Linked DNA regions of Homo sapiens: all the other regions are linked to region 1. The links come from fine-mapping of genetic effects on gene expression. A gene starts in region 1. Each other region holds a variant in brackets. All regions are shown on one strand. Distances are from middle to middle.

The links. PIP is the estimated chance that this variant, and not a neighbour inherited with it, causes the effect.
Region 2: its variant is fine-mapped to the expression of PELATON in blood mononuclear cells (TOPMed, PIP above 0.99). The same link has a PIP of 0.9 or more in monocytes, monocytes after LPS and whole blood.
Region 3: its variant is fine-mapped to the expression of PELATON in whole blood (TOPMed, PIP above 0.99).

Annotation. Positions count from the first base shown.
Region 1 is chr20:50,264,909-50,269,024 of GRCh38, forward strand. It overlaps PELATON (plaque enriched lncRNA in atherosclerotic and inflammatory bowel macrophage regulation), which reads left to right and starts at 2,570. Exons shown (of 4, transcript NR_170992.1): 1 at 2,570-2,755.
Region 2 is chr20:50,274,482-50,278,597 of GRCh38, forward strand. It overlaps PELATON (plaque enriched lncRNA in atherosclerotic and inflammatory bowel macrophage regulation), which reads left to right. Exons shown (of 4, transcript NR_170992.1): 2 at 1,170-1,254; 3 at 3,010-3,132; 4 at 3,696-4,116. Among named protein-coding and RNA genes, the nearest start is that of PELATON, 9.1 kb to the left of the region's middle. RefSeq lists enhancers at 145-646, 647-1,146, 2,991-3,528. The variant G/A (reference allele first, on the strand shown) is at 1,924.
Region 3 is chr20:50,280,598-50,284,713 of GRCh38, forward strand. No RefSeq gene overlaps it. Among named protein-coding and RNA genes, the nearest start is that of LINC01270, 10 kb to the right of the region's middle. The variant A/G (reference allele first, on the strand shown) is at 2,218.

The DNA of each region.
Region 1 (4,116 bases):
CGATTTCCCCTGTGACACCTCCTGGGGGCCGGATCCCCAGCGGGAGGAGGGATGAGGCCTGGGGGGCCTGGCTCTGGCACAATGCAGAGCATTGAGCTCATGCCAGCCTTGGCTTTGGGTTTGGACAAATACAGTAATCTGGGCAGGACTCACACAAAGACCTGGGGGCCAGGTCAGGCGAGGGGCGTCAGGTTACCCCTGTGGGCTGCAGCCACACAGGCGGCTTGGGGGGTGTATTTTTTTTCCCTAAAGATTATCATTAAATGAGCCCTCACCGAGGCCTCAGCAGGCAGGTTTCATTACAGGAAAAACTGAGGTATAGGGGTTTGCAGGCCTAACGGGACACGCTGTCACTGTGATAGGAACAGCATTAGCAATAATAACAGCTGTCCTTCCGGACTGGTTCCCAAGGGCTAGGCCCTAGGTGAATAATAAGCCTTTTCTCGATCCTTTCTGCAGCCCGAGAGGAAAGCCCCATGCTATCCCCATTTCATAGATGGGAAAACTGAGGCTTGAGGACACTTTGCGGCCTCCAAGGGCTGTTCTCTTCATTCCTCCAGCAGAGTGGATATGAGACGGTGCAGGGTCTGGAATGTCTGGGCAGAAGGAAGAGCTGGAGCAAAGGCCTGGAGGCTGGAGAGCGCTGTCGGGGGGCAAGTGGGGCAGTGTCCCACTGCGGGGTTTCATCTCAGCTCTGCCATGTCTTGGCTACGTGACCTCTGACACCCTACTGGGCCTCTTTGATCCCAGACTCACCTGTAGAATGGGTGTGTGAGAAGAAAACCTTCTGGAGCGGGGTGTTGAGGAGAGAACAGTGCCTGACACATCATAATAATAATGCTGAATAGATGTTATTTTCATTCCTAACCACTTCCTCCAGGAAGCCCATCCTGACCTCTAGCTCCCAAAGTCACCTGGACTTCCTCCATCACAGACCTTGCCACAGTGTGAGAAACTGCCTCATCCACACACCAGCTTCTCACCTCCACCCAGACCCTCTGATTGGGACTCCCCTGAAGACTGTGTCCCCAGAGCCCAGAAAGAGTCCAGCACAGAGCAGCTGAGGGGGCAGGTGCTGGTGAACAGTGTCAATGAGCCCCTGCTACTCACCAAGCCCTTCACACACGGGTCCTTCATTTAATGTCTTTCTTCTCCTAGATAGAACCTTGGCTTTGCCAAGACCGGTATAGTTGCTGCTCAAGAAATATGTGAGGAAATTGTTGAGATGAACCAGCACTCAGGGGAAGGGAGGCTTTCTGAGGCTGGGGCCTTAGCAGGTGGAGCTCCTGGGATAATAATAATAAGAAAGATGCCTGGACGCGGTGACTCACACCTGGAATCCCAGCAATTTGGGAGGCTAAGGCAGGCAGATCACTTCAGGCCAGGAGTTCAAGACCAGCCTGGTCAACATGGTGAAACCTGGTCTCTACTAAAAATACAAAAAATTAGCTGGGCCTGGTGGTGTGAGCCTATAGTCCTAGCTTCTCGGGAGGCTGAGGCTGGAGGGTCAATGATTGAACCTGGGAGGTGGAGCTTGTAGTGAGCCGAGATCGCGCCACTGCCACTGCACTCCAGGCTGGGCAACACAGTGAGACTCTGCCTCCAAAAAGAAAGACAACAATAATCATTAGTCTTTACTCTGCTCCAGGCACCAGGCTGAGTCTTCTCAGTTCATCTCCCCAGCAGATTAGTTCTATTATTGTTTCCATTTCACAGATGGGAAAATCAAGGCACAGGGAGGGGAGGTGGCTTACTCCAGGTCACACAGTTAGTGAGAGGCAGAGGCAGGATCAAAGCCAAGCCTGTTTGACTGAGGAGCCCGCCCCGAGACCTTAACCACACAACCCCTCCCTAGAAGGAAGGTGCCACTACTGGACACATTTTGGAGATGGAAACCAAGGCTAAGAGAGTCAGGATGGCCTGCCCATGTCTGGACACAGAAACTGAGGTTAAGCAGGAGATGCCCGAGGCGGGGTCCCTGTCTCCTAGGCCAGCACCCTGAAGAAGGGGTGGGAGACAACCCCCCACCCCCCAAGCTGTCCCCTGCTTGTTGGAGTTTCTGGTCAATACCCTGGCCTCTGTTACCCAGCCCAGCACCCAAGACGCTGCCTCTTCCGCCTGCCTGGAGTCTCGGGTGCCTTCACAATCGGATTCTCTGTCTCTGCAGCTGCTTTCCATTTGAGCCCTTTGTGCTGAAAATAAAAAAAATGAAAAGAAAACTTGGCACCACCCCTCTGCTTTGCTTCCTGGGGAGGAAGGAGGATCCCAGCTACTTCTTTCCCTCATTCTGGGGCCCAGAGATACCCACAGCCTGCCCGAGGTCACACAGCAGGGTTGGAGCCGGGACCCTGGCCTTAGACTCCCCTTCCAGTGCTCTACCCACTCTGGCCACTGCCTCTGATGTTCCTGGCTCTTCCTCTAGGCCCGTGAGGAGCAGAGAAATTAGGATGAATGTTCCCGAGCCCTACCACATGCTGGGCACTCTGCCATCCTGGGCTCACGAAACCCTCATGACAGCCCTGTGAGGTCCCGTCATCCCATTTAACCAACAAGGAAGCTGAGGCTCAGAGAGGGGAAGCGCCCAAGGTCACACAGCTGGGATGTGGCAGAGCTGGGGTTCCAGCTCCTGTTCCCATTGCTGGACAGCTGCCACATCTGGCACCCAATTTAGGACCCCGCGGGGAGGCCCAAGCCCCGGGGGTGGCGGGGGATCCTAGAGGAAAGTGGCAAGGCCAGGACCCTGGAGCAGAGCCAGGTAGGAACAATGGGTTCTCAGAGACCAAGGTGGCAGGGCGGGGCGGCTGCTGAGCAGGGGCGGCAGGGCGAGGTGGCGGGCGGGGCCCAGGAGACTTCATGCTCCCGCCTCCTACTCCAGCTCCCTGTTTGGGATCTGGGGACGCTCCAAGCACCTCAGCTTCTCAACCTGGACAGACCCACGGCTCCAGCAGGAGGCAGGGCCAGCCCTGTGTATAACCATAAATATAATGGGCAATAATCAGATTTCACGCTTACCGAGCCCTACTACAGGCCAGACACTGGGTCAAGGGTCCTTCCTGGGTCATCACAATCAGCCTAGGAGGTGCAATTAGGATTAGTGGCTTTTTACAGATGCGGAAACAGAGGTCCAGGGAGCTACTCAGCACCTGCTGTGCCAGGACAAAGAACTTTGGGAAGTGGGGCCCTCAGAGGGTGGGTACCCTGTTCCCAGAGGCAGGAAAGTTGAGGTGGACTGGACTCAGTGGGGCTCAGTGGGACACCGTGGGGAGTCAGTGCTCTCTGGGGGCGAGATGAATTAGAGGGAGCCCTTTTGGTTTTTTAGAATCTGAACATGGGGCGGGGGAAGCAGAGATGTGGGGAGCAGATGAAGCCTCCCTGGCACTGCTGGGAGGATTAAAGGACTTGATGGACACCCAGGGCTTGGAAATGTACCTGGTAGAGAGTAGGTGCTCAGGGAACAACTCCTGTTTGCAGAAACAGCAACTCACACTTAGGGAGCCTGCTGTGCATCTGAACCCCGTGCTTGGGTGTTTCTGACCCCCTTCCAGCTCTCATCCCTCCTCTCTCCATTTTCTCCCCTGTCTCAGGTTCATTCCTATGTTTCCTCTTGCCCCAATTAGGCCATCTTCTATGACTGCAACAGTAAAAATATTAATTAAATCTTATAACATGAAGTCTAACGTGGGGCCATTCCAGTGTTCCAGGGCAGGCTCCCTGCGCTCTAGGTAGGCATCTCTTCACTTCTCTTTCTTCATGGGCCCCAGTGCCTGCTGTGGCTCAAGACATCACGTCCCACATGATCACATCCTAACTAGGAAGAGATGAACAGAAAAGGGGACTTTCTCCTCCAGGATCTCACTTTTTTTTTTTTTTTTTTTTTTGAGACAGAGTCTTGCTCTGTTGCCCAGGCTGGAGTGCAATGGCACGATCTCGGCTTACTGCAACCTCCGCCTCCTGGGTTCAAGCGATTCTCCTACCTCAGCCTCCCACATAGCTGGGATTACAGGCGTGGGCCACCACTCCCAGCTAATTTTTTGTATTTTTAGTAGAGATGAATTTTCACCATGTTGGCCAGGCTGGTCTCAAACTCCTGACTTCAGGTGATCCACCCACCTCAGC
Region 2 (4,116 bases), 9.6 kb after region 1:
TGGGAGGATCGCTTGAGGCCGGGAGTTCCAGACCAGGCTGGGCAACAGAGTGAGAACCCATCTCTAGAGGGGAAAAAAAAAGAACTAGCTGAGTGTAGTGGTGCACGCCTGTAGTCCCAGTTACTTGAGAGGCTGAGGTGGGAGAATTGCTTGAGCCCAGGAGATTGAGGCTGAAGTGGGCTATGACTGTGCCACTCCACTCCAGCCTGGGCAACAGGGCAAGACCCCCCATCTGTCTTAAAAAAAAAAAAAGGAGAAAAAGAGAGAGAGAAAATACCCCATGGCCTTGGTTTCCTTATCTGTGAAATGGGGATGATGATGACAAGCCCCCAGAGGGCTTCCCCGCACCCTGGCAGTGACTGACACAGAGGCCCTGAGAGCTGCGTGTTCCAGAGTCATGCAGCTGGTACATGGCCGAGCTGGTGGGGTTTGAACCCTGGGTGCCTGAGTCAGGGAGAACAGGCGGAACAGTTGGGCCAGGGAGGGGAAGGTGCTGCCCAGAGCTCCCAGTGACCTTGGACCCCACTTCTCCTTTCTGCCCAGTGTGCTCGGCACACAGGAAGCCTGGCGGGGCCTCCCTTGCCCATCCTGTCTGCAGCCGGGTGGACACGGGGTCCCGGCGTCACCCACCGCCACCCAGGCCTCCTCCTTCCTGTGTTGTGCAAGACGAGGCGTCCCCTGTGTGGAATGGGCAGGCAGCTCTGGCGATGGGTGGACGGGTGAATGGGGGCCTCTCAGGCGGGGTCACTGCCCGCGGTTACCTCTAGCAGGCCTGGCCTAAGCCTCCGCCCCTTCCTCCTCCTTCTCCTCCTCCTCTGTTTCCCCAAAGTTCAGGCAGCCTTAAGCAAGAGGCTGTGGGACCCAGGAAACTGGGGAGGTTGTCCAGCCACCATCTTGTCCCCACAGAGCAGACCTAGGCTTGCGCAGTCTTGGAGAGGTCCTAAACAACAACAACAACAAAACTATAATAATAATGATAATAGCTGTTATAGTGGAGTGGCTTCTATGCACCAGGCATGCTCTCATTTAACCACAAATACATAAAACGCACCTCCTATGTGCCACGTGTGATTCTCAGACCTTTACCTCATGTCCCATCGAATCCCCGGCAACCCTTGTGAAACAGTTTTTTTTTTGTTTTTTTTTAATGATTCCTTTCTTCAGAGTAGAAAACTGAGGCTCTGAGAGATGAAGCTACTTGCCAAGGTCACGCAGCACAGTCACATCCTACTGAACATCATCCTGTTCTCTGGGGTGAGTGCTGTCCTGGAAGTTGGGGGGCTCAGAAGCTGTTGGTGCCCACCTGGGAGGTCGCCCTTGCAGCTGCTATCCTGAATCTCTTGCCCAAGGGCTTCCTCTGGCCACAAGAGTGTGGGAAGCAAGTGAGAGACCCCTGCCAGTAGAGGTGGGGTCTGTTTGTCCCCCCACTCAGCTTCCTTGCTTCTGGCTCAGGGGACAGTGGGAAGGTACTTTCTGCGAGTTGTCCCAGAGGCCTCTAGGGGGTTGGGCTCCTGTTGCCCACTGAGGAGACCTGCTCATCTACCTTCCTTGTGTCACTTCCTCACTCCTTCCCAGTGTTTCTAGAATCACCTCCCAAATATCCCACTTGCACCCAAAACCTTGTCTTGGGTCAGCTTCTGGGAGCCGACCTAAGCCAGCAGCTATAATGCTCAGGGCTTAAGAGCTTTGGAATCAGATGGACCTGAGTGTGAATCCCGCCCCTGCCACTTAACCTGAGTGTGAACTTGGGAGCCTGCCCCACCTCTCGGAACCTCAGTTCCTCCATCTATGAAAAGGGAACTTACGTGCAGAAAACCAAGTGACTATGAGGGGGATGGGGCAGTGTGAGATGACGGGACCAGAGCACGTTCCTGGCTGCAGAGGCCACAAGTCACGCTGTCTCTGAGAGGTATGGGGACAGGG[G/A]CGCAGAGGAAGAATGATCGCGAGTCCTCAGCCCTGTTTGGCTGACGGGGGACAGGGATGGGTGGGAAAGAGGTACAGCGTTTTTCCACCTTCCCCACCCATCACCCCTGAGATTCCAAATGAACATCGGGACCAACCCCGGGAGCCCAGCGGATGTTCAGGGTAGGGCAAAGAACAGGTGCCAAGTTTGCTCCCTGGGGTGTGAGACTGGGCAGCCTCAAGAGCTGCATTGGTAGGACTTTCACCAGGTAGACAGCAGGCACCTCGCCCCTGCAGATCACAGCTTCCAGGGCCACCTGTCCACAGAATCCCTTCACTGATCTGTGCTTGAGGCAGGGGTGTGTGGACTGGGAGTCCTTCTTTTACTCTGGGTGGGGCCTCATGCTCAGAGGGAGCTCTGTCTACCCCCACCACAAACCTGCAGTTTCCCTGCTACAGCGATGGCAACCTCAGCCACCTGGCTGCCCAGGCCCCCAACCTGGGTTCTCCCTCTTGTTCCCATGGTCAGCCCATCAGCAAACTCATCCACATGTCCAAGGGTCCACCCCCACTACCCTGCCCTGCCCTGGTCCAGCTAGGATGTTTGCAGTCGTCTCCTCATTGGTCTCCCTGCCTCCTCTCTCGCCTTCCTAAGCCAGAGGAATTCTGTAAGAGCTCAAGTTAGATCCTATCCCTTCTCTGCTCAGAACCCTCTATGGCTCCCAACTCACTCAGAGCAGAAGCCCACAGGGCCTGCAGGATCTCTGCCCTGGCCCCGCCTGACCTCACTGCCTCTCCCTTCTCTGTTCACCCACAGCCACGGTGGCCTCATCTCTCTGCCATAAACTTGCCAATTATCCTGCTGCTGCCTCATTGACTTCGCACCCACTCTTCCCTCTGGAACAGAGGACACTCTCGCCAGCTCTCCCCATGGCGGATCCTTGTCTAGGGTCAGGCCTCTGCTCCAAAGTCACCCCTGGGGACACCTTCTCTGACCAGCCCCTCATTCCTATGGCCTCATGCTGTTTTTATTTCTTCCTAGGACTTAGCACGTATCCTAGAAATTAACCTGCTGGTATATCCTGTTTCTTGTCTGTCTCTTTCCAGTGGAATGTCACCATCGCCCAGGTGGGGATTTTTGTGTGTTTTGTTCACTGCTGTACACCCAGCCCCCAGCACAGCGCCTGTCCAGGACAAGTGCCCAGTAAACACTTGGGAAGCAATGCAAGCGTGCGTGCATGGATAAGTATTTCTTTGGCAGATGAGGGGGCTAAGGTTCAGAGAAGGCCCTGGGGGTCTCAGACTCATAGCCCAGTGCTCTTTCTGCTGACACGCCCTGGTCTCTGGGGCAGTTTGTTGCCTGTTCAGCAACAAAGAGGGTGTGCCTCGTTAGGGGTCCTGCGTGCGAATCGCAGTCCCTGCGTGTCTTGGCTGGAGGTCACCACCCTCTCTGCTCCAGGGCCTGTAATTACCACTTACCCTGGTCAATGGGTCCGAGAGATTACCCTTGTAGGCAGGGCTGTGGCCAGGGTGCTCACCTGGCCCCCAGCAGGTCCCATGGGCACTGTCTGGCCGGGCTTCATGGCTGACATTCCAGGTACATTTCTAGCCCTGGGCTGCCATGGGCAGAGGGTGGGGAGAGGGTCGTGGGCTTCAGGCTGGACAAACCAGTCAGCCTTCCCAGCTGGGCCGCCTGACCACCCACTTCCTGTGGGGCTCCTTGAGGCCTGGAGGGTGGAGGGGGTCTCTGTTCAACCCCCACCCATGCCCTCTTCCCTTCTCTCCCTCGGCAGGTCCTCCCAGCAGCTCCTGCAAACAGACCCCCGACCCAAGCCCTTCCTTCTGCCTCCACTGCCACCACTGCTGCTCATCTCTGCTGGCACAGAAGTCTCTTCCCTGGTCTTCCAGAAATCCCCTCTCCACACTCAGCCAGAGGGAGCTATTAAAACTGTGGGCCAGCCCACATCAGTCCACAGCAAAGTCCTCTCTAAGGGATCTCTGTTGCTTGGAGAATAAACCCTCGGATTCCTTCCTTGGCTCTCGGGGCCTCCTCTCTGACCTCCCTCTGTCTCCTCTCCCAGCCTTCCTCCTCACTCACCCTCCAGCCATGCTGGCTTCCTCCTTGCTCCTGAAACAGCCTGAGGCCCACACTGCCCCGGGCCCTTTGCACTGGCTGTTTCCTCTGCCTGGAACACTTCTCCTAGGCATCCACAG
Region 3 (4,116 bases), 16 kb after region 1:
TTCTGTCTCTCTCTGTGTCTCTCTGTTTCTGCCTCTTTCTGTCTCCTTGTATTTCTCAGTCCCTGTCTTCGTCTATACCTCTTTCTCTCTTCCTTGTGTATCTGACCCACTGCCCAGGAGGGGATGCAGGCAGAGACCCCTGGCTTGGGTCCTGGAGTTGGGGCCCACGAGGGGATTGACATCTGGGGTTGAGCTGGGAATCTGAAGCCAGACCCTGCAGCCAGGGACAGCATTCCAGTCTCGGCTCCACACTCCAGGGATAGCCTTGGAACGCCAGGCAGTTCAGAGAGCCTGAGGTCTGGTCTTGGAGACCTGGGTTCCAATCCCAGCTTTGCCACATTCCAGCCATGTGGCCTTGGGCCCTTAGCCTTTGTTCCTGTAAAATGGGACCACTGAGAGCCCGATCTCAGGGTTTTATGAGGAGGAACGATGAGAGGGCTGTGCTGGGCTTCCTGAAGCCCTGTGTGGCCTGGAAAGCACTCAATAGATGATAACTCAGTGTAATGATTTCTTCTAGCAGATGGGGAAAGCGAGAGTTAAAGAGGCCCGATCATTTCACTCACTCATTCCTCAAACGTTATTAAGCACCTGCTATGCACCAGGTGCTTTGTTTTGTATCCATTAACTCAGGGTTCAGCAAACTACAGCCTCCAGGCCAAATCTGGTTCACAGCCTGTTTTTATAAATAAAGTTTTATTGGCACACAGTATGCCCATTCATTTACATATTGTCCACAGCTGCCTTTACCCTACAACTGCAATGTTGAGCAGTTGTGAGAGAGACCTTAAAACCCACAAAGCTGAACATATGAACTCTCTGGACATTTACAGTAAAGTTTGCTAATCCCTGGATTAGCCCATTACAACCCTGGAGGAAGGACATGTCATAAGCTTGATTTTATGGATTAGGAACTGAGGTCCGAGCGCAGTGTCTGCCACAAGGTTGGGTCTCCATACGTAATATCTGGGTCTTATTCCTCCTCTTCTGCCCCATGGGGAGCTGCCAACTCCTGTTCCCTTTCCCTATCCTGCATGGATCATAAGTGGATAATTTGAATCCCGCAGAGGAAGGAATGCTGTTTGAAGGTCAGGTCAATGGAAAGAGTCCTATTTTCAGGTCAATTTGGACCTTGCCAAAGCCTCTTCCTTCTGGTGACCTTAGCTGAGAGGTCTGCCACTAGCAGGTGCTTCATGAACAGTTGCTGAACAAGTGGTGTGCATCATGCTCCCGCTGTGAACTTCAGCTTGCTTGAAGGCGGATTCCTCCAGGTAATTGCAGGAGACCCCACGGCCGGCCACACACCACCGTTGGGATGAAAGATGGCCTCGAGCCATCGGTGGGAGAACACCCTGGGCAGGGAGATGCTTTCTAGAGCTCCACGGAAGTGGGGGAGGGGATCTCACTGCCCGCCAAGCATGCCCTGGAGTCTTTGTCCCTTCCTCCCTCATGCTGGAGGCCTGCAGGTACCTGGCTTGAGACGTTGCCTGGCCCTCAAAACACCCAGGTTCCCCCCAAGCTCCTCCCCAGCCTCCTCCCTGCTGACCTTGGGGAGCTCCCGGTTTGCCCTCAGCCCTTTTCTGGAGGCCCCAGAATCACCAAGAGGTAATCCTGCCTGCTGCCTGGAGGAGGCGATGTGGGAGACTCAGGAACCTGGGGTGTCCCCCAGCCAGGGGGCGGGCGTTGTGATCCGGCGCTGCTGAGCACTGCAGTGCCTTCCCTGATGGCCTTGTGTGCCGCTCCCTGACCCTCCCGTAGAGCAGCCTTCCCATACTGCTGGGTGACACTTGCGTAAATCATTTCACCTCTTGGCTCTGTAAAACGGGACTGGGGTGGTCCCTACCCCTTCAGGGTGTCGTGAGAATGAAAGGCATCAAGTGGGCAAAGCGCTTGGCATGGCCCTGAACCATGGTGGGCATTTGTCACACACGCTCATGGACTTATTCCTGGGTCCCTAGGATACCCTGGAGCTCCTCCCCAGGTTGGACCTGCTGCTAGCATGAGAGGGAAGAAGGGGGACACAGACACCAAAGACAGTTCTCGTCCTCATCTAAATGCTGGCGACTTCCAAGGGCACCTCCCCAAGGCCTCCCCTGAGCCTAGACTCAGGGGTCTCCACCCACCTGTCTCTGTCCCTGCTGGGATGACCAGGAGAAGCCTCAAACCCAGGTTGGCCAGGACTCCATTCCTGATCTGCCCCCCGAAGCCAGTCCTGCCTCT[A/G]CTGATGGCTCCTGCATCCTCCAGGTGGTCCCCCAAACCTGGGAGTCTCCCCTGCCTTCTTCTTCTCACTTGCTCCCACATCTGATCGCTCATCACATCCTGTCGACTCCACCTTCAAGGTAGACCCGGAGTCTGCCCTCGTCTCCCCACCTCCACGGCCCCCGCTTCGGCCACGGCCACCAGCACCACCGCCTGGACTGGTGCAGTCACTTCCTCCTGGCTTCCTTTTCTCCCTCAGCCCCTCACAGTCTGTTCTCCACACACGACCAGAGGGACCTGTCAGAAGGGACCTATACCTTCCAGCACAGACCCTCCCAGGGATCCCAGCTCTCTGAGTGAAAGCTCCCTGTGGCCCGTGAGGCCGGGTGCGACCCTGGCCCCCCAGCAAACCCTCCACTTGTCTGATGACCTCGCTGCCTCTCTCCCTCGCGTACTCCCTTCCAGCCCTGATAGCTTCCTGCTGTTCCTCAAGAAGCCCTGGGTCTTTCCACCTCAAGGTCTTTGCAGGTCCCTGGAGCCCTTGTCCACCATGGATGTCCACGGCTCCCTCACCTCCTTCAGGTCTGAGCTCGGATGCCACTCTCGACAGCCACCTTCTCTGACCCTTCCCCTGGCTTAAGTAGCCTCTGCCTGCTCGACAATCTCTCCCTCTACGCCCCTGACCATCCCGTGTTCTTTTTTCATAGGGGGAGGGGAAAGGCACTCCCAGGAGAGTGGACAGTGTGGGCCAGGGCCTGGACGTGTGGGCAGCAAGAGGGTGGGTGAGGGGAGAGTGGTGGAGCCTGGGTGGCTGAGCTTCAGGGGGAGGCATCCTCCAGGCAGGAGTGAGCAGGCCAGGGTCACCCTGACTCCGTCAGCCACTGGTTGTGTGACTTCAGGGAGCTCTCTCTGGACCCAAGAACCTGCAACTGCTGTTGGAGACCCACTAAGTGGACCTGTCATCTGACAGAGGGGGAAACTGAGTCTCCAAAGCTGCTGCTGTGACCTGCTGAAAGGGTCAGCCCAGGGATAGGGACAAACCAGGGGCTTCTAGCAGTCACTTGCACCTCAGTGTGAGTGAGCTCCCTGGATTCTTGGCTGTCTGGTAGCCCCTAGACCCCATGGGGCTTGGGAGGCAGAGTGATGGCAGGGCTGAGCCTGGGGTGGAGTCAGGGCTGTGTCAAGTCCCGGCCCAGCCTCTGTCCCGGCCCCTGGCTCCCTGCAGGGTGCTGGATTGCACAATCATACCACCCACAGCTGTGACCAAGGCAGGTGACACACGCTTTCTGGGAGCCACCCTTGGGCCGTGCAGCCTCGTCACACACACAGGGCCACCGATGGCATGGATGCACCCCGGCACATCCTGACTGCGAGGAGTGACTGCTCCTCACACTGCCACTTCCGGGCTGTGTGACTCTGGGCAAGTCACTTCCCCTCTCTGAGCCTCTTTTCCTCTTCTGTAAGAGGAGGTAATATAGTGCCTGCTCCCCTGGCTGTTGGAGGGATTGACTCTGCCCCCGCCATGCTGGCCCTCTGGCTGGTCCTCAAATGCACCGGGCATGCCCCACCCAGGGCCTCCACCTGCGCCCTTCCCTTTGCTTGGGCCGGCCCTTGCACCTCCTTCAAGTCTCTGCTCAAACGTCGCAGCTCATGAGGCCTTTCCTGCCCCTGACACTCCCTCCTTACTGAATTCCTCCCTGCATCTCTCAGTGCTACCTGACTCATCATGGTTCCTGCTTGTTTTGTCTACCCGCTCCTGGGTGGCAGCTCCATCTTTGTCTCTCTTGGTCATCACTGTGTCCCCAGATCCCAACAAAGCACCTCGTACAAGAAAGTGCTCAGTCCATAGTTGCAGAATAAATGAATGAATGAATGAATGAATGAATGAATGGAAAGTGCTTAGCTCCACGCCCGACCCTT